Linked DNA regions of Homo sapiens. The protein of the gene in region 5 interacts with the protein of the main gene of each other region in a pairwise test. Each region holds a gene or a part of one and is shown on either strand. Other genes may lie near its edges. The genes, in order: KATNBL1, TRIM41, TLE5, ZFP41, MFAP1, MAD1L1 and TCP10L.

What was found.
Region 1: the proteins of MFAP1 (region 5) and KATNBL1 interact in binary tests that used the Homo sapiens proteins (3 or more experiments, as listed by UniProt).
Region 2: the proteins of MFAP1 (region 5) and TRIM41 interact in binary tests that used the Homo sapiens proteins (3 or more experiments, as listed by UniProt).
Region 3: the proteins of MFAP1 (region 5) and TLE5 interact in binary tests that used the Homo sapiens proteins (3 or more experiments, as listed by UniProt).
Region 4: the proteins of MFAP1 (region 5) and ZFP41 interact in binary tests that used the Homo sapiens proteins (3 or more experiments, as listed by UniProt).
Region 6: the proteins of MFAP1 (region 5) and MAD1L1 interact in binary tests that used the Homo sapiens proteins (3 or more experiments, as listed by UniProt).
Region 7: the proteins of MFAP1 (region 5) and TCP10L interact in binary tests that used the Homo sapiens proteins (3 or more experiments, as listed by UniProt).

The regions. Positions count from the first base shown.
Region 1 is NC_000015.10:34,200,097-34,203,596, forward strand, and holds part of KATNBL1 (KATNB1-like protein 1), read right to left. Parts: intron 1-3,500.
Region 2 is NC_000005.10:181,229,781-181,233,280, forward strand, and holds part of TRIM41 (E3 ubiquitin-protein ligase TRIM41), read left to right. Parts: intron 1-963; coding exon 964-1,059; intron 1,060-2,878; coding exon 2,879-3,109; intron 3,110-3,500.
Region 3 is NC_000019.10:3,052,496-3,055,995, forward strand, and holds the end of TLE5 (TLE family member 5), read right to left. Parts: intron 3,232-3,500; coding exon 3,169-3,231; intron 1,700-3,168; coding exon 1,625-1,699; intron 1,546-1,624; coding exon 1,324-1,545; 3' UTR 415-1,323; downstream 1-414. UniProt on the Homo sapiens protein: Transcriptional corepressor. Acts as a dominant repressor towards other family members. Inhibits NF-kappa-B-regulated gene expression. May be required for the initiation and maintenance of the differentiated state.
Region 4 is NC_000008.11:143,253,439-143,256,938, reverse strand, and holds part of ZFP41 (zinc finger protein 41 homolog), read right to left. Parts: exon of another isoform or gene 3,348-3,500; intron 1-3,347. UniProt on the Homo sapiens protein: A putative DNA-binding regulatory protein associated with meiosis in spermatogenesis.
Region 5 is NC_000015.10:43,807,691-43,811,190, forward strand, and holds part of MFAP1 (microfibrillar-associated protein 1), read right to left. Parts: intron 2,225-3,500; coding exon 2,065-2,224; intron 1-2,064. UniProt on the Homo sapiens protein: Involved in pre-mRNA splicing as a component of the spliceosome.
Region 6 is NC_000007.14:1,816,946-1,820,445, reverse strand, and holds part of MAD1L1 (mitotic spindle assembly checkpoint protein MAD1), read left to right. Parts: intron 1-3,500. UniProt on the Homo sapiens protein: Component of the spindle-assembly checkpoint that prevents the onset of anaphase until all chromosomes are properly aligned at the metaphase plate.
Region 7 is NC_000021.9:32,582,724-32,586,862, forward strand, and holds the start of TCP10L (T-complex protein 10A homolog 1), read right to left. Parts: upstream 2,801-4,139; 5' UTR 2,698-2,800; intron 1,583-2,697; 5' UTR 1,582-1,582; coding exon 1,438-1,581; intron 1-1,437. UniProt on the Homo sapiens protein: May be involved in transcriptional regulation. Has in vitro transcription inhibition activity. Acts as a tumor suppressor in hepatocellular carcinoma (HCC) cells.

The DNA.
Region 1 (3,500 bases), 9.6 Mb from region 5:
TTACAATCCTCTGGCTAGACAGAAAAGTTCTCCAAGTCCCCACCCAACCCAGAAACCCAGCTGGCTTCACCTCTCACCTACTCGGAACAACTCAAAGTTGATATCTCAAGGGTTTAATATTTCCTGAATGATGATTCATCACACCACTTTCTCTCTCTCTCTTCTTTTTTTTTTGAGATGGAGTCTTCCTCTGTCTCCCAGGCTGGAGTGCAGTGGCGCCATCTCGGCTCACTGCAACCTTCGCCTCCCGCATTCAAGAGATTCTCGTGCCTCAGCCTCCTGAGTAGCTGGGATTACAGGTGCGTGCCACCACGCCCAGCTAATTGTTTTTTTTTTTTGTATTTTTAGTAGAGATGGGGTTTCACCATATTGGCCAGGCTGGTCTCGAACGCCTGACCTCTTGATCCACCTGCCTCAGCCTCCCAAAATGCTGGGATTACAGGCGTGAGCCACCACGCCCCGCCCACCACTTTCTCTTAATTCAGTTTTCCACAGTAAGCTGATTTGAGAAATAACGTCAAACTCGGGAAAGCAGATCAAGCATGAAAATAAAGACAGATGTCTGGAGATTCAGTGGGTACAATACTATATCATTTCAATCAATTTGGATCAAACTGAATTCCAACTCTCTTATGACTGAGATACCCTGAAATAAAAATTACAAAAGAGATGCCAAGTGGGAATTAGCTTTCCTACTACCTCTTCCTCAGTGTTTTTGTTTTGTTTTGTTTTGTTTTTTGAGACAGCGTCTTGCTCTGTCGCCAGGCTGGAGTGCAGTGGCGCCATCTCAGCTCACTGCAACCTCTGCCTCCCAGGTTCAAGCGATTCCCCTGCCTCAGCCTCCCAAGTAGCTGGGATTACAGGTGCACACCACCACACCTGGCTAATTTTTTGTATTTTAGTAAAGACAGGGTTTCACCATGTTGGCCAGAATGGTCTCGATCTCCTGACCTCGTGATCTGCCCTCCTCGGCCTCCCAAAGTGCTGGGATTACAGGCTTGAGCCACCACACCCGGCCTCTTCCTCAGTTTTAATCAAGTCCACTTAGATTACTACATTAGGGAACTGGGACTAATAATGGGAAAATAAAATTAAAGAACTAGGTAGATGTTTATCACCATCCATAGTTGTGGACCTACACAGGCTTTTTAAAAAACATAACTATGCCTTATACTGGAAAGTAGGGAGAAAAAAGTAAGGTAGCAAAACACTATGTTACCACTTAGGTTAAAAAGTGTGTGTCTGTGAGGGACTACTTGTATATTCACTAAATATCTTTTGAAGGATATGAGAGAAACTGGGGACAAAAGTCACTTCTAGTGAGAGGATATGTGTGGCTAGGGGGTGAAGGGAGAAGACTTTTCCCTTTTGGGCCTTTTGAATTTTGTATAATGTGCAAGTATGTTTTAACTTAATTATAATGTATTAGAGTATTATATACATATTTTCTTAAATGGCTATAAAACACCTGAATCTTTGGGAAGACTTAGGACTTCTTACGCCTAGAAGTAGATGGTTATGATTATTCTAGCATGTTTTGGTGAATTCGCCAAATTCCAATTTACTTTCCCTGTTAGAATAACCCAGTATTTTCTGGAAATATTCAACAGGGAGGAAAAAATACTTGATTCTGTTTTAATTGTCTTCTTGGACTCAGAAATGGAAAATATATATACAACTGGCCCTCTGTATCCGTGGGTTCAGCATCTGTGGATTCAATCAATTCCCAATCAAAACTATTTAGAAAAAAAATACATCTCTACTGAATATGTAGACTTATTTTTCTCATCACTATTCCCCCAATAATACAGTATAACAACTATTTACATAGCATTTACATTGTACTAGATATTACAAATAATTTAGAAATTATTTAAGGTGTATGGGAGGATGTGCAAAGGTTATGTGGAAATACTACACCACTTTATATCAGGGATTTGAGCATCCTCGGATTGTGATATCATTGGGAGGTCCTGGAACCAATCGCCCATAGATAATGAGGGATGAATGTATACATACATAAAACATTGTCACTTTAAGGATCATTTTTGACCCTTGTTTGCCTACTAAAGGTATTTCTGATACTTTCAAAACCAATAGACTCTCTACATATGAGAGGATATACCAATAAAGTAGTATTCAACTCTCAAAATGATGAGCTAATATAAATTAATTAAAAAACTCTATCTTCATTATTTGGACTAATGTCACCACCCTACGACACTTGTGCCTAATTTCTACAGTACCAGAAGTCAACAGGGTTAAGTATACCCTAAGCCTTGGAAAAAAGGGTAGATCATCCTTTAAGAATTAACAAAAATGATACTAGAGACATTCAAAATCTTTTTATAACAACGGTTCTTAAACCTTTATGTTCCAAAACTTGTGAGGATTATATTACATCCCCAACAGTTACAGTGGTTGGGCACCACCATATCTCCTAGGCTGAAATCAGAACGTATATTAAGGTTTGAAAATGCCTCCTCTCTCAGGGAACACTTTCTTCTCCAACAGAAGAATCACTTGCAGGCTCAAGAAAATATGACTCCTGTGTCCAAGACTTAACTATAACAAAAATTAACATATTAACTTTCATTTAAGAATAAAATCTCGGCCAGGCGCGGTGGTTCACGCCTGTAATCTCAGCACTTTGGGAGGCCTAGGTGGGCGGATTGCCTGAGGTCCGGAGTTCGAGACCAGCCTGGCTAATACGGTGAAAACCCATCTCTACTAAAAATACAAAAATTAGCTGGGCATGGTGGCAGGCACCTGTAATCCCAGCCACTGGGGAGGCTGAGGCAGAAGAATTGCTTGAGCCCGGAAGGCGGAGGTTGCAGTAAGCCAAGATCACGCCATTGCACTCCAGCCTGGGCGACAGCAAGACTCTGTCTCAAAAAAAATAAAAATAAATAAATAAAATCTCTCATCATACTGTTTCACCTAAACTCTGGATTCAAATCTCCAACTGCCTACTAGCCAGCTCCACATGGATATCCAATAGTCATCTATTCTTGAACTTAACATATTAAAAATAGAACCCTTAATATCCCCCCTCTCAAATCTGCTCCTCCCAACAGTCCCTAACTCAGTAAACGGAACCATCCTCCTTCCAATTTCTCAAGCCTGAAATAAAGGATTCATCCTTGATTTCTTTTTTCCTTAATAACCTACATCCAATTTGTTGACTTTGCCTTTATAATATATTCCCAAGCTGTCCGTTTCTTTCCATTTCCATTACCACCATTCTAGACCAAACCACCAACTCCTTTAGACTATATAATAGCTTCCTAAATGCTTCAGCCACACTGGCCTTCTGTCCTTCAACATTTCAAACTTATTTCCATTTTGTGGCTGAGCCATTCTTTCTGCTTAAAATATTCCTCCCACACACTCACCACCCAATCAAGAATAACCCCACCCTCACTTACAATCATTCTCTATAGCAGTACCCTGTATTTTTCCCCCACCACATTTATCACCATCTGGAAATTAGCTTATGC
Region 2 (3,500 bases), on a different chromosome or scaffold from region 5:
GGAGGATCAGGGCCATTTTCAGGGAGCTGTTTTAAAGGAAGAATACCTTGGGCCAAGTGGAGAAAGGCACTCCCAGACAGAGGGAACAGCATGGAATTATACTCAGGAAATGACAAGTAATTTTATGTGGTCAAACGTGTTAAGAGTCTGTGTGGAAGGCGTTGAGTGTAGAGGTGAGGCTGGAAGTGTGGGGTCAATGTTTTGGAAGTGGTGGTGACCCATGGAAAGGTTTTAGCATAGGAAAAAAATCATCAGAAAAGTATTTAGAGAGAAGAGTTCTGGGGAAGATCGCCTGTGAAGGGGAAGGGGACCAAAGGTGAGGGCACCCCTGGAAAGACTCTGGTGCGGGGCTCAAGCCACTTCCCCTCAGCTGTGAGCGTGGGAGCTCTCTAGTCTTGAGGCTCCTACCTTTAGAGAATACACACAGGGCCGGCCGGGCGCGGTGGCTCACGCCTATAATCTCAGTACTTTGGGAGGCTGAGGTGGACGGATCACGAGGTCAGGAGATTGAGACCATCCTGGGTAGCATGGCGAGGTGAAACCACGTCTCTACTAAAAATAAAAAAATTAGCCAGGCGTGGTGGTGGGCACCTGTAGTACCAGCTACTGGGAAGGCTGAGGCAGGAGAATCGCTTGAATCCGGGAGGTGGAGGTTCCAGTGAGCCAAGATCGTGCCACTGCACTCCAGCCTGAGCGACAGAGCGAGACTCTGTCTCAAAAAAAAAAAAAAAAAAAAAAAAAAAAAATACACACAGGGCTTCTGCAGACGTGCACAGAGGGATTGGAGGCTTTTGTCATCATCTGAAAGAAGAAAGTGGAGGAAGGTATAATACTCACTTGACACCCATTTTCGGGGGTAGGGATCAGGCTTTGACCCATCTTGCTATAGGGAGGATTGCAGAGGTAGGCTCTGAAGGGCAGGTGCCTCTCCCAGCCCCCACTTTTCTTTTTCTGTTTCCTCAGGCCAAACTGCAGGGGCACGTGGAACCACTGAGGAAGCACCTGGAGGCAGTGCAGAAGATGAAAGCCAAGGAGGAGAGGCGAGTGACAGAACTGAAGGTGGGTGAATGTTCTCGACGGGGCTGATGGGCAGTACAGTCGAGGCAAGGAAGGTAGGGCTTCCCACTCTCACAGGGAGTGACTTGGTCCCCTGAGGAGGGGACAGCTAAGGCCTGGGAGAGGGGTAGATGCTTTCCCTAGGTGCTGAGGAGAGCGGGGCCTTAGAGAATCAGGAGGCATGTTCATTCCTGGTTCCAAAATGGAGTGGAAACTGAGGCCTGGATTGGAGGGCCTAGGTGCCTGGCCCAAGGCTGCAGAACAGGCTTTCTACCCGACACCAGAGCCTGAAGGGGGCAAAGCAAAACCCACATAGCAGCCATCAGAGAAGCTGCCGGCCCCAGGATCCATGCAGGCACTGGGCAGAGCAGCCCTAAGCATGAGGCGGACACTGTCCTGGGACACTTGCTGTGTCCTGAGAGGGGGCCAGTGTGTTTAAGCTGGGGCAGGATTTAGTGTATGTTAGCACTGCAGAGACCTAATATTTCCTAGTCTAGTGTTTTCTCAGCACACCCCGACCCCCCCGCTTTTTTTGTTGTTTTTTTCCATTATTGCTCGCCCTTCTCCAAGGAGTCTTTTAAGATACATTTTCCATCCCCACCTCCCGCCTGTTTTCATAACCCCAGCAGGTCCTGCTGGGATGGGCTGGCACTGTGAGCTTCATAGACCAAGCCAGGACCTCCCCTTCTGTCCCTCTTCCCTCCTCCCTTCCCAGCCAGTGCCTGGGCCTTGCCACTACCCAGGGCCCATGCTCACTGCCACCTGAACGTTAGGGACTCTGCTGCTGGCGACTGCTAGGCACTGAATGGTAGGATCTGTCTGGGAGTAGGAAGTCATCGTGCTTCTGGCCAGCTGCCCAAGTTGATACTTTTGGGCTCTCCTGGGTATAGAGGTAACAGGAGCTGTGTGCCCCTGGCATAGAGTGAAGCTGACTGTGGCGGCTGTTCCCTCACGCGTCTGGTCAGTTGGGACCCTCCTCTGGCCTGCTGCTCACAGCGTCTGCAGCCGATGGTAGCTGTGTGAAAAGTGTGCCTACCACCCAGGAAGGGCCATCCCTGGCAAATAGGGTGGGACTGGGCAGGAGTTTTTTCTGTTACAGGATATTAAGTCCCTACATAATATCCTTGATTTTTGCCTCTTAGCCCACAAAGCATAAAAATACTTACTATCTGGACCTTCACAGAAAAAGTTTTTCCGAGTTCTGATCTGGGGCTTTTGGGTGACTTTCTTAAGGTCACTGTGTTTAATGGCGTCGGGACCCTAACTTCATGTTTTGATTCCTGAATTCTTTTATTTATTCATTTCAAAAATTTTTACCAGGTGCCTACTCTGATTGGTACTATGTCAGGGTCCGAGGACCCTGGCAAACAAAGACATTCCTAGTCCCTGTCAGTGGGAGCTCATGGTACAGTGGGGGAAAGGATGTTAACAGTTACGTCATTTAAACACAACGTTTCAATATTATATGTGCCACAGAGAGATACAGTGATATTTGTGGGGATGGTCCCGATTTAGATCTGGAGAGGAGGGAAGGCTTGTCTTGGAATATTTAAGGTTGGACCTGAAGGATGAGTCAACTTAGGTAGAGTCAGGTGGAGAGGAGTGTTCCAGGCAGAGGTTAGTGAGTTTGAGACCACTGTGCTGGGAGCAAGGGGGTGGTATCTGGTAAGGCTGGTAGGGGATGAGCCTCTTTCCGGGACTATCTTGGACCTGGGGAGTGTAGGGCTCCTTTGCCTTGCATTGAGAAGTAGTAGTTGCAAAACTGGAGGTTATCTTCGTACGTGTTGAGGTGGTGTCTGCCATCCCCTTTGCACCATTCCAGAGCCAGATGAAGTCAGAGCTGGCAGCGGTGGCCTCGGAGTTTGGGCGACTGACACGGTTTCTGGCTGAAGAGCAGGCAGGGCTGGAACGGCGTCTCAGAGAGATGCATGAAGCCCAGCTGGGGCGTGCGGGAGCCGCGGCTAGTCGCCTTGCAGAACAGGCCGCCCAGCTCAGCCGCCTGCTGGCAGAGGCCCAGGAGCGGAGCCAGCAGGGGGGTCTCCGGCTGCTCCAGGTGAGCAATGTCCCCTCCCTGTTCCCCCAGCATTCTGTGTTGGCTGTCAGGCAGTGCTTACCAAACGCCTGTCCAGAGCTGCCTCTTTTCTCCCTGGGAGGAACCCACAGTGATTGAACCTGAAGACCAAAAACATGTTTTAAAGCTGGAAACAGAGTTAATGTCGAATGTGGTATGTGTGGCGATTATACCCAGTGAAAAGCATGAAGATTCGGTTGTAGGAGAGGTTTAAATGACAGTTGAGGAAAGTCTTTTTGACAGTGACATCCTGAAAAAGGTGAGCAAGTCGTATTGTGGAAATGACAGTATCCCTGGGCTCACAGCAGGATGAGGCGAGTTAGGTATGGCGAGGCATGGGGTGGTTGAAATGGATGTGTGTTCATTGAGGGCC
Region 3 (3,500 bases), on a different chromosome or scaffold from region 5:
CATGCCCGGCTACTTTTTGTATTTTTTTTTTTTTTGAGATGGAGTTTTGCTCTTGTTGCCCAGGCTGGAGTGCAGTGGTGCGATCTCAGCTCACCGCAACCTCCTTGAATTCAAGTGATTCTTCTGCCTCAGCCTCTTAAGTAGCTGGGATCACAGTTGCCCACCACCACGCCCAGCTTTTTTGTATTTTTAGTACAGACAGGGTTTCACCATGTTGGCCAGGCTGGTCTCGAACTCCTGGCCTCAAGTGATCTGCCTGCCTCAGCCTCCCAAAGTGTTGGGATGACAGGCGTGAGCCACACCGCACCGGGCCACAGCTAGGAACTCCTGATGTTCTAGGAGGATGTCTCACATTGGAAGGAACCCCGTCCTCCCCCGGGGGCAGCCACAACACAGAGGCAGGGACACAGCACCGAAGCTTCTCACATCTTTATTGGAAAGGCACAGCTAAGCCCACCCTTGATACAGCATTTTCCACTTCTCTCTGTAGAGATCAGACGATTGAACACGAGATAAGCTGACTATATACAGACACAGGTGTGGGTGTTGCTTTTTTTTAAAAACACTTTTGTCTTTTTTTTTTTTTAATATCCCCTTTCTTAAAAGACAAGCTAGTATACTGGAAAAAGAAAAAAATAATAATAAAATAAAAACCAAGACAACTTTAGTACCCTCATCTTTATTTGGGAAGGGGAGGGGGAATCCTGGGTCGCCCACCCTCACCCTGCTCCTCCCAGCTCAGCTAAGCTCGTCCCTCGTGCCCCCCCTTTTGTGGGCGATGGGAGAGGACCAGGTGGGCGTGGAGGTGTCTGGAACTAGCAGAGGTGGTGAGTGGGGCAGGTGGAGGTGGGAGCATACCTGGGACCCGGGGTCGGGGGAGACTCGGGGTGCCCAGGACGGGAAAGGGGCAGCTAGCATTGCGTGCATGCAGTACCAGGGTGAGAGGGCTGTGGCCCAGGCAGACTGTCGGTTACACATGTTCAAAACGGGGGAAGGGCCGGGGCTGCTGCGCTTCGCGAGGTCTTGCTCCCTTGGGACCTGGTCTCCCATCTGACCCTCCAGGCCTTAGCTTGCCTCACATGTCAGGGCAGGTATCCACCTAACCAGGCTGCAGGGGAGGAGGAGGGAAGCCGGGAATGGGGTAGGAAGAAAGCTAGAGGTGGCCTGCAAGCTGGGCTGGGGCCCCCGCCGGCGGCCACCATAAATACTATGGGAGTTTAGCCAATCCCGAGCTCCGCTGTGTCTTGTGCTAAACATTCCTTTCTCTCCGTGCCTCTGTCTCCCCTCTGTCCCCCCTCCCAACCTCCCTGTCCCGGCCCCCTGCTAATCCGACTTCTCGCCATCATCCTCCTGGTGGGTGTCACCATCGTGCCCGTTCTTGTCTTCCTTGGAGAGGTGGGCCTGGGAACCCAGCGCGGACAGCGAGAGGAGGCCGGTGCCTGCGCTGACCGCCGGCAGCGAAGGCGGCTGCAGCCCCACGGGTAGTGGGGTCAAGGGCAGGGCCAGGGCCTGCAGCTGGGACAGCTGGTGGGCTTGGAGCTGCTGCTGCAGGGCGGGGGAGGGGAACATTAGCTGCCTGGGGCCCACCTGTCCCCCGCCCACCCGCCCAGGTCCCCATACATACTCGGATGATAGAGTTCAGCTCGGGAGCGGTGACCTGCTTGGCCCTCTCAATGGCTCCCAAGACCTGCTGCTGGTGCTGGAAGGGGGTCGGGGGAGAGGAGAGGCAGTGATTCCTCCTGATCCTGGGAGAGGAGAGGGGGACGGCCCTGAGGCCAGGAGGAGCCCCACTACCAAGTGGGCCATCATGTCTGCTCCTCCCAGTGGTTTTCAACCCCATCAGAAAGCACCCTCCCTCTCTCCAACTGCTTCCTTTCACCAAGCTCGTCTCTTCGTCTGGCCAACAGAGACAAATGGAAAAGTGCAGAAAACAATTAAAAGGGTTTTGTGCTAAGTAGTTAGGAAACAGCTTTTGAGTGAGCCCGGGAGAAACCCTGGATCCTGACCTATCCTATGTGCACAGCCACCTGCAAAGATGTGAAACATGTGAATGTTTGTGCAGTACACAACCTGCCCAACTGTACAGGGACGTCCTGATCCTAGGAGCTCCAAGACTGTGCCCTGAGTCTGGCCAAATTGAGCCCTTCTCCTACCATGGCTGGGGAGGGCCCAATGAATTCTGGCAGGGCTGGCTGGGGAATGGGCTCAGATTCAGGGCAGTTCCTCCCTGAGCTCTCCCCAAACACCTGACTCTGTGGCCAGCAGATGCTAGAATCTACCAATCTCCCTTTTTGCCTTGGCTACCAGGAAGCCTCTGTTCTGAAGGGCTCCAAGTGCCCTTTTCTCTAGGGCTTTCATTGGGTCCTGCTAAGACTTGTCCCTGGGCAAAGCAGGGCACCCAAAGGATCCTGAGATACCCACAGGGATTGAAGAGGAAGTTACAAACTTTTGACAGTAAACTTGGCAGGGACAGGAGATGGGCCTTACATGGCCCTGGGGAGGGGCGGCCTCGCATCCTGAGCCTCAGAACCCAAGAAAGGAGAAGAGGAGCTGGGCGTCAGGTTCATCTGGGTGTGTGTGTGCATGTGGTAATGTGTGCTCAGGATCACGTGTGCCCACGTGTAGCTGCACATTCCTGCATGCGTGTCCCTGTGCTGTCTGCACACACGTGTATCCGTGTCTGCATCTGTGTATCTCCCGTGTGTTGATGTGCTCGTGCCTATCTGTGTGGCTGTGTCCATGTGTGACCACCCTGTGCTACCCCTTCCCCCACAATCCCCTAACACCCTCTAGTCCTTGGTCCTGTGCAGCCCGCATGGCCTGGAGGAGGATGTCTCAAGAGGGTGAAAGGAGGAAGAGAGATGAGAAAAAAACATTCCTGGTGCAGTTTAGGCCCATCTGACATTTCTACCTATGACATGACTCACTCCAGCTGGGAATTCCAGAGCAGGGTGAGGCCCGCCCCCCACACGCCTGCACCCCTGGAGTGTCTCTGGCCCGGGGATTCTTCTGCACAGGCCGGCTCTGGTGTTCAGAGCCAGGGAGGTCCAGAGAGGGGAGGCGTGTGCCCTGGGGCGCCCAGCACACCACCCAAGATGGCTGCAGTGGACAGGGGCTGGGCAAGTGCGGGGCCCCCTCACAACCCCTCCCCAAGGCCCTGGCTCTTACCTCTTGGGAGAGGTAGGGCAGGACCTGGGCACAAATCCCGTTCAGCCTTTTGACGATCTCAGCCTGGAACACACAGATGAAGCCGGCTTCAGTCCTGGGCGGGTGGCAGGTGCAGGCTAGCCACAGGAGGCCTGCGCGGGGCCCGGCCCAGCCCTGCCACTTGCGGCTTCTAAGAGGGGCTAGGTCTGGCCAGGGTGGGATGAGCAAAGCCGTGTTCGGGCCCGAGGGCAGCCAGTCAGTGGCAAAGGTGGGGCTGGACACCGGCTGTCGCCTGCAGCTTAGAGTGAGGTAAGTGCAGGATGAGGCCAGACTGCACATTCCTCGGGGGTCGG
Region 4 (3,500 bases), on a different chromosome or scaffold from region 5:
CCGGCTTCAGCTCTTGGTCTTGCTATGACATCAGGAATTCATCTGTCTGTGCCTCCGGCTTCAGCTCTTGGTCCTGCTGTGACGTCAGGAGTTCGTCTGTCTGTGCCAAATGATAGGGACAAAAAAGATGGCAGACTGGTTTTGTTTTGGTTATGCAATTTTTCTCATAACCATAAACGTTAAAAAAAATTTCCAAGTGGATTTAAAAAAATGTATCTTTTATTTTTGAGACAGGGTCTTGCTCTGTCATCCAAGCAGGTCTTGAACTCCTGGCCTCAAGTGATCCTCCTGCCTCGGCCTTCCAAAGCACTGGGATTACAGATGTGAGTCACCACATCTGGCCCCAAAAATGTATCTTTTGTTGTTTTCCATGCCGATTTTGTTGAAGCCAGCTCTCTCATCTTTTCCTTGGAGAAGTATCCAAGGCAGTCAGTTTGCATGGCCCCCATTTCGTGTGTGAACCAATATCTGATCTCACTAACACCAGCATGTGGGGCGAGCCCTGATCTCACTAACACCAGCACGCGGGGCGAGCCCTGATCTCACTAACTCCAGCACGCGGGGCGAGCCCTGATCTCACTAACTCCAGCACGCGGGGTGAGCCCTGATCTCACTAACACCAGCACGCGGGGCGAGCCCTGATCTCACTAACACCAGCACGCGGGGCGAGCCGTGATCTCACTAACACCAGCACGCGGGGCGAGCCCTGATCTCACTAACTCCAGCACGCGGGGCGAGCCCTGATCTCACTAACACCAGCACGCGGGGCGAGCCCTGATCTCACTAACACCAGCACGCGGGGCGAGCCGTGATCTCACTAACACCAGCACGCGGGGCGAGCCCTGATCTCACTAACACCAGCACGCGGGGTGAGCCCTGATCTCAAGAACACCAGCACGCGGGGTGAGCCCTGATCTCACTAACACCAGCACGCGGGGCGAGCCCTGATCTCACTAACTCTAGCACGCGGGGAGAGCCCTGATCTCACTAACACCAGCACGCGGGGCGAGCCGTGATCTCACTAACACCAGCACGCGGGGCGAGCCCTGATCTCACTAACACCAGCACGCGGGGCGAGCCCTGATCTCAAGAACACCAGCACGCGGGGCGAGCCCTGATCTCACTAACACCAGCACGCGGGGCGAGCCCTGATCTCACTAACTCTAGCACGCGGGGAGAGCCCTGATCTCACTAACACCAGCACGCGGGGTGAGCCGTGATCTCACTAACACCAGCACGCGGGGCGAGCCCTGATCTCACTAACTCCAGCACGTGGGGCGAGCCCTGATCTCACTAACACCAGCACGCGGGGTGAGCTCTGATCTCACTAACACTAGACGCGGGGCGAGCCCTGATCTCAAGAACACCAGCACGCGGGGCGAGCCCTGATCTCACTAACTCCAGCACGTGGGGCGAGCCCTGATCTCACTAACACCAGCACGCGGGGTGAGCTCTGATCTCACTAACACTAGACGCGGGGTGAGCCCTGATCTCAAGAACACCAGCACGCGGGGCGAGCTCTGATCTCACTAACACCAGACACGGGGCGAGCTGACACGGTCACACAGTTCGTAGGATCCAGCAGTGTGCTTACGACGTCACGTATTACGGTTCTTGTTCTTGGCAACCCTGTGGGGTTAAGCACTGTCAGCATCGCCATTTCACACCTGGGAAAACTGAGGCAAAGGCCCCACAGTTCCAGAGTGAGGGTCAAGTCCACAGCCCCTGACTTGAGAGCTATGCTCTTGACCCACTACGTGCGTCCTAGAAATCAAAGACATCAGATTAAAGTGTGAGTTTAGGATCAGGAACCCACCTGCCTGCTGCTAGAGAGGCTGAGGTGGTCCTGCCAGCCATGCGCTGCTGCAGGCGTCTCTGTGGGCATGACCTGGGGCTGGCATTTGGTGAGATGTCAATCCACACCTGGGAATCCGTCCTATTGGCCCTAAATATGGAAAAGATATTTATTGTGGCATTATTTATAATAACCTAGGTTGGAAACAGCCCACATGCCCATGCTGGGAAGTGGATAAGTCACCTGTGCCTTTTCGATTCAACTGGTCATTGTGCAGGCATTAAAAGTAATGCTTCCTTCCTGGCCAACATGGTGAAACCCCGTCTCTACTAAAAATACAAAAATTAGCTGGGCGTGGTGGTGCGTGCCTGAAATCCCAGCTACTCGGGATGCTGAAGCAGGGGAATCGCTTGACCGCGGGAGGTGGAGGTTGTGGTGAGCTGAGATCGTGCCACTGCACTCCAGCCTGGCAACAGAATGAGACTCTGTCTCAAAAAAAAAAAAAAAAAAAAAGTAACGCTCCCTATTGTCAGTAACGGGGAAAAGCAACGATCATACTATCATAAGTAAAATCAAACCAAATGCAGACACCACCAGGGAATGCGTGCCCGTCTCCTGGGCCATCCTAGACAGCCGTGTCCACACTTGCCACCCTCTGTGGCACATCCCGACAGACAGCAGAGGATGCCTGCTCTGAGCAGCTCCCTGTCCCGCCCCCTGGTTTCTTTCTTGTGTCCGAGTTCCTGACTCCTGACGCCGGCTCTTCCCTGCCAACAGCTAATTCTGAAGGACACTAAGACACAGAGAGCGTGTGCAAGGACTGGGAGTTGTGTTAGTTCATTGTGTGTTACTATAAAGGAACACCCGAGGCTGGGTAAGTTTTTGTAACGAGGTTTACGTGGCTGGCGGTTCTGCAGGCTGCACAGGTATCTGCTTGGCTTCTGGTGAGGCTGCAGGGAGGGAGCAAGAGACGGGAGGAGGCACCAGGCTCTTTAATGCAGGAGTCCCTGACCTCAAGACGGGTCCATGGCCTGTTAGAAGTGGGTCACACAGCAGGAGGTGGGTGGCAGGCGAGTGAGCGTTACCGCCTAAGCTCCGCCTCCTGTCAGATCAGCGGTGGCATTAGATTCTCACTGGACCACGAACCCCACCGTGAACTGCATGCGAGGGATCTAGGTTGCACGCTCCTTATGAGAATCAAATGCCTGATGATCTGAGGTGGGACAGTTTCATACTCAAACCATCCACACCACTCCCTGTCCACGGAAAAAACTGGTCCCAGGTGCCAAGAAGGTTGGGGACCACTGCTTTAAACAACAAGCTCTCCAGTGAACCTCAAGAGTGAGAGCTCACTCATTACTGTGAGGAGGGCACCAAGCCATTCTCGAGGGATCTGTCCCCGTGACCCGAATACCTCCTGCCAGGCCCCTTCCCACACTGGGGATCACATTTCCACATAAGATCTGGAGGGGACAGACGTCCAAACTATACCAGGAGCTCGAATGCACCCTTCACCTAGGACAGGATCGGCAAGCAAATCCGGCCCACCTCCTACGTTTGTAAATAAAGTTTTATTGGCACAGCCACGCTCGTTCATTCATATGCCATTGACATCTGCTGTTGCCCTACACAGCAGGGTGGGGACCTGCTCTTCACGGGAGAGCTAGTTGTTTAAAGCAGTGGTCCCCAACCTTCTGTGGTCCCC
Region 5 (3,500 bases):
TCAACCCTTTCAATCTTCTACCAAATATAACATCTCTCTCGTCAGAACCCCTACAGTACTTTACTTTTACTTATGTTATAGTGATTATGTATTCTCGCTAACAGTGCTAAACAGTGACCTTTGCATAGTATATGCACTAAAGCTTACTTACTCAATGAAATAAACAACATTAGTAAGGCTGGATGCAGTTGCTCTTGCCTGTAATCCCAGCACTTTGGGAGGCCAAGGTGGAAGGAGAGTTTGAGCCCAGGAGTTTGAGACCAGCCTGGGCTACATAGCAAAACCCATCTCTACAAAATAGAAATTAGGTGTGGTGGCACACACCTGTAGTCCCAATTACTCAGGAGGCTGAGGCAGGAGGACTGCTTGAGCCCAGGAGAATGAGGCAGCAGTGAGCCATGACTGCACCACTGCACTCTAGCCTGAGTGATAATATTACAATGCTGTGATACATATTTATAAACACATATGCTGAAGGAATTAAAAATAGCACTATCTTGTTTAAGAAAGACTTTTTAAAAACAATTTATTTTGAGACAAAGTCTTGGTCAGCCACCCAGGCTGCAGTGCAGTGGCACGATCACGGCTGACTGCAGCCTCAACCTCTCGGGCTGAAGCAATCCTTCCACCTCAGCCCCTTGATAGGTGACACTACAGGCACGGACCACCACGCCTAATTTTTGTATTTTTTGTAGAGATGGGGTTTTGCCATGTTGCCCGGGCTGAACTCCTGGGCTCAACTGATCTGCTGGCCTTGCCTCCCAAAATGTTAAGATTACAGGCATTAGCCAATGTACCTGGCCCACCAAAGGACTTTCACATACACTTTTCTTATGTATCTTAACTAGCAATGAACTGCTTCTCTAAGAAACTTGATTATTAAAGCTGCGAACTGCTTAAGCAAACAAACTTTATGACCGAAGCAGTACAAGAAGTAGTTCATAATCTCCACTGAATAGTAAGCTACATCTGCTGGAAAACTACCTAAGTAAACACTTCCTGCTAATCAGATAGACCTGAAACTGATTTTGGAGGGTGGCAGGGAAGCCGCCACTGAAGTTTTAACAGCATCTGCAGTGAAAGGCAGGAATTTAGTTGCAGTGGGGATATTTAGAATTTGCCACACGGCACTTGAAAAAGCTAGTCTAGTTTTTGGTGCAAACTGCTTTAACATTAGGAAATAAACCATACAGGGTTAACAGATTGCTATTTTGATCTTAGTCTTTATATGAAAAACAAAGATGACGGCATTCCATCTAATGGTTAGATAATAAACCATTTTTTTTGGTTAGTTACTCTTGGGTACTGTCAGTTCAGAATGAAGTGAACTAACTTTCTGCCACCCAAAAGTGAATTAATGTAAAGCTATTTGCAGAGTTTGGTTTTCACATAACCAAAACTTCTCATTCAGCTATGAAAGAATGACAACTATGTCATGTGGAGGACCTAATTAGTCCACTATCTGTACAGATCACTTCTCTATTTCATTTCCTCAATTTATCTAAGGCTGGGGATGATGGCTCATGCCTGTATTCCTAATACTTTGGGAGGCTGAGGTGGGAGGATTGCTTGAGGCCAGAAGGTCAACACCAGCCTGGGCAACATAGTGAAACCTGGTCTTTACGAAAAATTAAAAAAAAAATAACCAAAAAAAAAAAAAAAGCCAGGCATGGTTGTTGCATGCCTGTAGTCCCAGCTACTCTGGAGGCTGAAGCAGGTGTAAAGCGCAGGACGTCAAGGTTGCAGTGAACTATAATCGCACCACCGTACCCCAGCCTGGGTGACAGCGAGACTCTGTCTCTTAAAAAAAAAAAAAAAGTCTATTACATCATTTCCTATTTTTGAGAGTTGGGGCCAAAAGAGAGAACAGTTGATGCTACTTCTGTCATCCAATTGCTGATGCTTTTCTCTGAGTTTATATTGTTCAGAAGGAAAAAGCAAATGAGAAAGCTGACCACTGGCAAGTGGAAATTACATTCCAGAATATTCTTGAAGAGAAAAATAATTCAAAGTTTCTGAGTTATTCCTACTGCCCAATTTTCTGACTCTCTTTTCACTTCTTACCATGAAGAAGGCACCCCGGTGATAATACTTCTGTAAGAACTTGTATTTGCCCTTAACAGCTTTGTTGGTAATGACTTTGCCGTTTGCCCGAAGTTCAGCTCTCCTCTCTTCCTCAGTCAGGTTTCGCATGCGTTCAATTTCTGCTTTCTCCTTCTCAAGCCTGTCCAGGGAGCAAAACAATTTATTGGTACTGTTACAGCTTCAGAAAGACCAAATTATCTGAAAATAACAGTCCCATGTCATTTCAAGTATTAGTCACCTTCTTTAATTCTAGTCATTGCCTATTAGGAATCAAGATAAGGAGCTCAATAAACAAATGGGTGAGTTAGTCTTCATTATGTTTGCTAGACTAGGTATTGCCAACTTTCAAAAGTTGATTCTAGCCCTTCTGACGTTCAGACATACTATTACTGCTGGGTTTTCCAACATTACAAATTCTCTTTCCCTAAAAGGTCTTCTTAGCTTTAAAAAAAAAAAAAAATCAGTGAATTTAAAATAAGTGTCTGAGGCTTTGCTGGTATTCCTTTATGTAAGTGTATCATAATCATATAGGTGCTTGCATGTCATAAACCAAAGATTACCATCATTAATTAGATTGCAGTAACTTTTTTTTTTTTTTTTCTTTTTGGTGAGATGGAGTCTTGCTCTGTCGCCCAGGCTGGAGTGCAGTGGTGTGATCTTGGCTCACTGCAAGCTCCGCCTCCTGGGTTCATGCCATTCTCCTGCCTCAGCCTCCCGATTAGCTGGGACTACAGGTGCCCGCCACCATGCCCAGCTAATCTTTTTGAATTTTTAGTAGAGACGGGGTTTCACCGTGTTAGCCAGGATGGTCTCAATCTCCTGACCTCGTGATCCGCCCGCCTTGGCCTTCCAAAGTGTTGGGATTATAGGCGTGAGCCACTGCGCCCAGCCAGATTGCAGTAACTTTTTAGCCAGTGTTGGGGAGAGGGAGTGATATCCCTTGTCTCCAAATAAAATGCATACATACACACAATTTTGTGTACAATTTTATATTTTTTTGAGATGGAATCTTGCTCTGTTGCCCAGGCTGGAGTGCAGTGGCATGATCTTGGCTCACTGCAACCTCTGCCTCCCAGGTTCAAGCTATTCTCCTGCTTCAGCCTCCTGAGTAGCTGGGATTACAGGTGTGTGCCACCATGCCCGACTAATTTTTGTATTTTTAGTACAGACAGGGTTTCACCATGTTGGACAGGCGGGTGTCAAACTCCTGACCTTGTGAGCCGCCCACCTCGGCCTCCCAAATTGTTGGGATTACAGGCGTGAGCCACCACGCCCGGCCTTGTGTACAATTTTAAAGGGCACTTAGACTCCTACTCCTACAGGTCCAGGATAAAAATCTTAGAAACTACAGGCTGAGGGCCAGGCGTGGTGGCTCATGCCTGTAATCCCAGCACTTTGGGAGGCCGAGGTGGGTG
Region 6 (3,500 bases), on a different chromosome or scaffold from region 5:
AATAACTTTTGTTTTCCTGTTCATTCCTACTTGTATTATTTCCTCCTCCTGCTTCGGGCTTGTTTTTCCCTTCGTTTCTTGAAGTAGGAATTTAGAGAAGCGATTTGAGATCTTTCTCCTTTCCTGATACAGGCATTGAGTGCTGTCCGTTTCCCTCTAAGCACTGCCTTGGGTGCGTCTGGCAAATTTCATTATGCTGTATTCTTGTTTCCATTCTGTTCTCTTTTTTATTTCCTTCGAGGCATCCCATTTGACTCGTGGATTACTTAGAAGTGTGCTGTTTAATTTCCAGGCACTTACAGTTTTCCTGTTGTCTTTCTCTGACTGGTTTCTGGTTTTGATGTCCACTGGTGTGGCCTCCACCTCTTCACGCCACCCCACAGATGAACAGCATTCACATAACTTCCCAGTATCTCGAAGTAGCATCGTTTCCATTTCCTGCGTGTCTTCTCATTTTACTGCATTATTTCAGCTTTCCTTGTTTGAGCCAGGATTCAGGGCTTCCTTCATTCCATCTCTAGCTTCCTCCCCTCGAGTTTCCCAGTTCATGGAGTTTCTCTTGGACCCTCAGCAGCAGGGGGTCTTGTTCTTGACAGGAATCCCTCACACTTCCCCCTTGGCCTCCGAGCCCCACCACATCCTGCGGTTGGTGGTGTGTGGAGAAAGTGGTGTGTGGAGAGAGTTGGTGGTGTGCGCTGTCTCTGCTCTCCAAGCCCTTTGTCAGCCCCCACCCCTCCCTCACTCCGTGCCTCTTGTCCGTGCCCGCTGGGACACCATGGGGCTCGGCTCAGGGGATGGTGGGACCAGCGCTTAGTAAGACTAGTCAGCCCTAGGCACCGAGTGAGCACTGCTCACGTGGCAGAGCTGGAATGGGGGCCGGGCACACAATCCCTGGCCCACGTGTTCCACGGACATGCTGCAGAGGTCCCCGGCCCTCCAGGGCAGGCCCTCTCTGCTTCCAGAGGGGCAGGTGAGCCCCAGGCCAGGCCAGCGAGGGTCTGGACTAGAGTGCAGTGGCCACAATGGACGCCGCGAGTGTCTTCATTAAGAGTGAGTGTCTCAGTCTCCCCCAGGGCGCCCGCCAGCCACAGGGCCGCTATGTGCGCAGACTAGACAGGTGGCAGCTCGGGCCGGCCAGGCAGAGGGAGAGGAAGCCAGAGCCTGCGCGCAGGCAGCCTCAGAAGTATTTCCAGCCACAGCCAACGTGTCTTACTGGCAATTTGCTTTTTAAAAAATTGCAGTTTAATTTTAAGTGAGCAGCCCGTAATTACAGTGATTTACGAGGTACCTGGGGACTGTGTGATATTTGAACATGGCAGAGGGCTGAGCAGCGATGGCAGAGATGGATGGGCCCGGCGCCACTCATTCAGCAGGTCCTGCTAATGCCGGAGCGTTAGACCGAGGTGGAGCCTCCCAATGTGGCTGGGTACGCTGGGGGAAACGGAGTCAGAGGTGGGCTGCACAGCAGGTCGACTTGTTCACCGGGGGCTGGTGTTTTGCAAACGCTGGGTCTGCCTTCGTGTGGGGTTTGAGCTGGGAGAGTAGCACTGGTTACTCCTGCCTGTCTCCGTCCACCCCCACCCCCACCTGGAGGGCAGCGCGGTATATTAGGGCATCATTCTTCCAGAGCCGCCTGAGGCCGGCAGAGAGGAGGTGCTGTAGGAGCCGTGAGTGGGTTGCCCGGCCTACCATTGGGAGCAGCTGTCTTGCTGACGCTGGCGGGGTGCACCTGTTTCAAATAAAGAATGATCAGAGCTCACGCCTGTAATCCTCACGTCGTGGGCAGCTGAGGCAGGAGGATCACGTCAGGCCAGGAGTTTGAGACCAGCCAGGCCAGGAGTTTGAGACCAGCCTGGGCAAAATAGCTAAAGTCTATCTATCTCTCAAAAAAATTTAAAAATTAGCCAGGTGTGCTGGCACATGCCTGTCATTCCAACTGCTCAGGAGGCTGAGGTGGATCACTTGAGTCCGGGAGCTCGAGGCTGAGTGACCCGTTATCATGCCACTGCACTCCAGCCTGGGTGACAGAGTGAGACTCGTCTCTAAAAAAAAATATTTTTAGAAATGAACGGCCAGGCTCCCAAAGCCTGCCAGCCTCTGAGGGCCGGGGAAGGCGGGTGCCTGGAAAACAGCTATTCTCTGGTCCAGCCTGGCCAGAGTCTGCACCACAGTGCGTCAGGCCCAGCCAGGTTGCCAGCCCTGGGTTGGGAGGAGGGCGAAGGGCCGGCTGAGGAGACTTCTTCCCACACTGCCTCCCCACCCCTGCCCGGCAGCTGCAGGAGAATCAGCCCCTCTGACATTTAGGGGGAGAAATTCAGAATCAAGAGCAGAAGGCAGAAGTGAAAGGATTTTCTCAGCGAAAGGTCAGAGTGGTTTCTCTTGTTTTTGTTTAAAAATGGTTTGTGTTGAACTATGACAAGGCCAAATGTACTAAGGCAGCAGAAACAGGGGGAGGGCAGGGGGAGGGCACGGGGACGGCTCCTGAGAAACAGGAGGTGCAGGAACAGGTCAGGTCGCAGGGCCTCTGGGGCAGCACGTGCTCCAAAGGTGGTGAGGGGAGGGGCGACACCATCAGGGCGGGGCCCAGCCCAGGCATGCTCCGGTGGACAGGGGAGCTGCCAGGACCAAGCTGGATGGAGCCAGGCCGCCCTGTGGCTCCTGGGGAGGGTTCCCAGAGGGCTGCCGGGCGGAGGGAGCGCTTTCCAAAACGGTTTCCTGAGCTCCGATGCACACACATGCAGCTCACCCTCACGTCTAGCGCTCCATTAGTCTACCGTTCCGTTCCTCCCGGCACATTCAGTGCGCAGCCGCGACCAGTCTAACCGTGGCACATTTCCACTGGCCCTGAGCCCTGACGTGCCCCTCCAGGACATCCCCTGGGCACGGAGTTGTGTCGACAGGTCTCTGTGACTGGCTGGGCGTGTTTTCGGGGTTTGCCCGCGTGGCAGCGTGTATCAGAGTTCGGCTGTACGAAGCGGTGTTGACGGGTAAACCCGGTTTTGTGTCTCCCTCCGGCGGTTGAGGGCTGGTTCCGCGTTCCATCTGTTGGTGATGGGATCGTGTTGCCGTGGACACCCGTGCCGAGGTCTGTGCGTGGACTGCGCTCAGACCCCCTGGCTGCGCGCCCGGGCGGGTGCTGGGCCCATGGACTCTGCGTCCAGCTCTTTGAGGAGCTGCCGGCTGTTTGCAGTGGCCGCACCACACACGCTCCCGCCAGCGACGCGGAGGGTCTGATTCCCCTCGACCCAGCAGCTCATGGTGGTTGCTCTCAGTGGCCGTCGGCGCGAGGCGGCTCCGTGTCTCGCTCAGTTGCGGTTCACGTTTCCCCGGTGCCCAGCGTCCTGGCATGAGCTCATTGGCCGTGTGTGGCTCTTCTCTGGAGAAATGTTCAAGGGCCCCTTGTTTAATTGGCTCTTTCCTCTTCATGGTGGAGTTGTGGGAGTTCTGGGCATATTCTGGGTACAGGACTTTTCAGGGACGTGGTTTCAGAGGGAGCTTTG
Region 7 (4,139 bases), on a different chromosome or scaffold from region 5:
CTGGGACTACAGGCATGTGCCACCATACTTCGCTAATTTTTGTATTTTTACTCGGGATGGGGGTTCACCATGTTGCCCAGACTGGTCTCAAACTCCTGGGCTCAAGCAATCCACCTGCCTCGGCCTCCCAAAGTGCTGGGATTACAGGAATAAGCTACCATGCCTGGCCATAGCTTTATTCTTATTAAGTAGTGTTTATTATGAGTTAGTCCACATAATATAACCAGATAAAGATGGTTAGTGAATTATGATTTTTTTGTTAAAACACTACTACAGCAAAAAGAGGCTGGCATTCTTTTCCTTTTTTTTTTTTTTTTTTTTTTTTTTTTGAGACAGTGTCTTTCTCTGTCACCCAGGCTGGAGTGCAGTGGCGCAGTCTCAGCTCACTGCAACCTCCACTTCCCAGATTCAAGCAACTCTGGTGCCTCAGCATCCAGAGTAGTTGGGATTACAGGCACATGCCACCACACCTGGCTAATTTTTCTATTGTTAGTAGAGACAGGGTTTTACCATGTTGGCCAGACTGGTCTCAAAGGCTGTACTGGCATGGATATATGGTCAATAGTTTAAAAATTATGGAAGCCGGCCGGGCGCGGTGGCTCACGCCTGTAATCCCAGCACTTTGGGAGGCCGAGGCGGGCGGATCACGAGGTCAGGAGATCGAGACCATCCCGGCTAACACGGTGAAACCCCGTCTCTACTAAAAATACAAAAAATTAGCCGGGCGTAGTGGCGGGCGCCTGTAGTCCCAGCTACGTGGGAGGCTGAGGCAGGAGAATGGCGTGAACCCGGGAGGCGGAGCTTGCAGTGAGCCGAGATCCCGCCACTGCACTCCAGCCTGGGCGACAGAGCGAGACTCCGTCTCAAAAAAAAAAAAAAAAAAAAAAAAAAATTATGGAAGCCACTGCATTTTCAACCTAACATGTTAGCCTTCCCCTGGGATCCTTCACTGGATCGTAGAGCCTCCAGCCTTGCTCTGAGAATAAGTGGGATCGTGATAAAGGTACAGTCCTGCACTGGGTGGCCCTGGCCACAGGGACCCGTGGGACTTTAATGACAGCAAGCACTGTCCAACAGGGTCCAATGAGGAAGATGGTAAAAATCAGGAAACTTGCTGGGATGATGTGAGGCATGTCAACTTTCTGATTTTCTTTAATGAAGTTTTTAAAGTCTGGTGCCTTCTCCTGGATTAGAGGAGAAAAGCTGGAATGTTAATATTTTCTTTAACTCCCTGCCCTGCCTCCCATCCACCAAGAGATACGGTTGCAGAGGGGGAAAGAGCCACATGCCCCTTGGAGAGGAAGTACAGAATCAGTGTCCCGGGGTGGTGCATTCCTACAGGGGTCCAGCAAGGGAAAGTCCAATGACGGGCCTCAGGGACAGGAATCAGGGTCCCGCCTGGTGGGACTAACTCTGTCCCCACAGAGCTCAACTCACTGGCATCTCCCCAGTGTTGCAGTCCTCCGTGAGAACCTCGGCTGCCACAGCTGTCTTCTCCATGACAGCCCCAGCTCCTGGGCACGGGTCCTCTGGGTGGGTGCCCTCTTTGGGGTCCCTGGCCTCGAGTTGACCTGCCAGCATCCTGGTTGGGAAGGGAAGGGCTATGGGGACACTTGAATGCAGCCCTCCTACCCCGTCAGTGTGGGCTGAAGGCCCCAGCCCCAAACTAAGGGTGAGCAGGACCCGCAGCCGCTCCTTCTCCCCCTGGGTCATGTGCACATTCCCAGGCCCGAAGCTGACCAGGTGAAAGGACACCACAGACAGAGGGACTGAGCTGTCCACACCTGGCTCTCCACCATCCTCCGTGGAAAATGCTTTAGATCCTAGAAGATCAGCCTGACACCTAACACACTCCAGTCATCCAAAGAGGGGTGTGAGTGGGGTGTGAGCCGGTGTGAGTGGGATGTGAGTGGGTTGTGAGCAGGATATGAGCGGAATGTGAATGGATGTGAGCGGATGTGAGCACGATGGTCTTGGGGTATGAGCAGGTGTGAGTGGAATGGTCTCAGGGTGTGAGCAGGTGTGAGTGGAGGGTCGCATGAGACACCGAGGGAATTCTCAGCCCTTTAATCAGCACCCACCTGGAGGGGCACAGGCAGACCCTCCACCGTGTTGAGTATGTGTCTTGAACCATCAGGGTGACATTTGTGAATTCATGGTGAAGATGTGGAAAGGAAACACCTTTTTATAGGTACAGCATTTATGCCAGTTCTAGGAAGTTCACAGCAATTAGAGAACAAAAACGAAAGAGAAAAACGCAAAGCTTTCCTGCAAGCCTGCAGGGTCGTCTCTGAAAGCTGCCTCCACCCCTGCCTTGCCCTGTCCGTTTTAGGAAGCCAGTGGCCCCCAACGAAACCCCGACTGTTTAATTCATAAACTTCTAACTGTGTGAGAAGGAACAGTTTAACCACAGTGATCGGAGAAATGCTATTTAAAAGAGAGTCTCCTGATGGAAGCGAATCGAAGGTCTAGAGCAAGACCTACCAGTAACCAGATCACTGCCATTCCTTCCCCGCGGAGACTGGGAATGTTTCTGCGGAAGTGGGCTGGGGTCACGGTCCTCACAGCCCTGAGAAAGCTCCTTCTTTCCTGCTCCTCTGAGGGGACACCCCAGTGTCCTCGGCCCCAAACTCATGACCCCCTCAGTCCAGGGAAGACCCTTTCCTTCAGCCCCACCACCAGACCTCGTCACCTCACCTGGTCCCCAACAGTCACTACTGCCAGGATCAGATCATCTGGGCCATGTCCCCACAGTTGTCCCCAAGCCCTCCTGCCTCATATCCAGAGACCAGAGAGCAGCGGACAGTTCCAACGGACTTTCTGTCTTAAAGGGACATGAACGTCTCACTCAGCGTCACCACTGTACCAGCTCAGATAATAATTAAACATCCCCAAACCTGCAATTCTTAATATAGAAGCTCATCGTCAGTGGAGTCCATCCATCCACAAAGGACATTGGAGAGAGTCAAACTACTCCTCCAAATTGACAAAAACCATGTGTTTTATATCCAGTCTTCAATACGCAACGTGTAGTAAGAGCTCATTTCTCTGAGCATACATTCTTGGAGAAATACAAACTTTCTTCGGATATCAAATTATTTACTAGAAAAAACATTTTTATGAAGGGAAAATAATATATGTGAGTTTAAATAGGAGACAGGATTCAAAGTTTCATCATTTCACTAAATGCATCTCCATCTGAATTGTCCGTGTGATTTTTGTGATAGAGAAGAGAATGAGGAGCAAGCAAGAGTCGATATTCCTGTTAAACCCTGGCTGTCCTTCTCATCCATGGTGCTGCGTGTGGACAACATACACCTGGGGCTCACCTGAGCCTGCTTGGGACGTGTGTCACTTGGATAGTTCTGCAAGCGATTCGCATGCAATAGGCAGTAAATGCCGACGTCATGAATGAATGAAGAGAATACTACAAAGAGGAAACAGAAGGCACTTTTGTCCCCATGTGTCATTCTAACTGTGAGAGTGTGTGTGTGTGTCCTGAGGTGTGCGAGTGTGTGTGTGTGTGTCCTGAGGTGCGTGAGAGGTTGTATGTTTGTCCTGAAGTGTGTGAGAGTTTATATAGGTTTCTGAGGTATGTGAGGGGTTGTGTGTGTCCCTGAGGTGTATGAGGTGTGTGTGGGTCCTGAGGTGTGTGAGTGGTTGTGTGTGGGTCCCTGAGGTGTGTGAGAGGTTGTGTGTGGGTCCTAAGGTGTGTGAGTGGTTGTGTGTGGGTCCTAAGGTGTGTGAGAGGTTGTGTGTGGGTCCTAAGGTGTGTGAGTGGTTGTGTGTGGGTCCTAAGGTGTGTGAGAGGTTGTGTGAGTCCTGAGGTGTGTGAGAGGATTGTGTGTGAGTCCTGAGGTGTGTGAGGGGTTATGTATGGGCCCCTGAGGTGTGTGAGGGGTTTTATGTGTGTCCTGAGAAGTGTGATGAATTGTGTGGGTCCTGAGGTGTGTGAGGGTTTGTGTATGAGACCCTGAGGTGTGTCAACATTGTGTGTGAGACCCTGAGGTGTGTGAGGGGTTGTGTGTGGATTCCTGAGGTGTGTGAGGGCTTGTGTGTATGAGCCTGAGGTGTGTGGGTTCCTTATATGGGTTCCTGAGGTGTGTGAGGGGTTGTGTGTGTGTCCTGAGGTGTGTGAG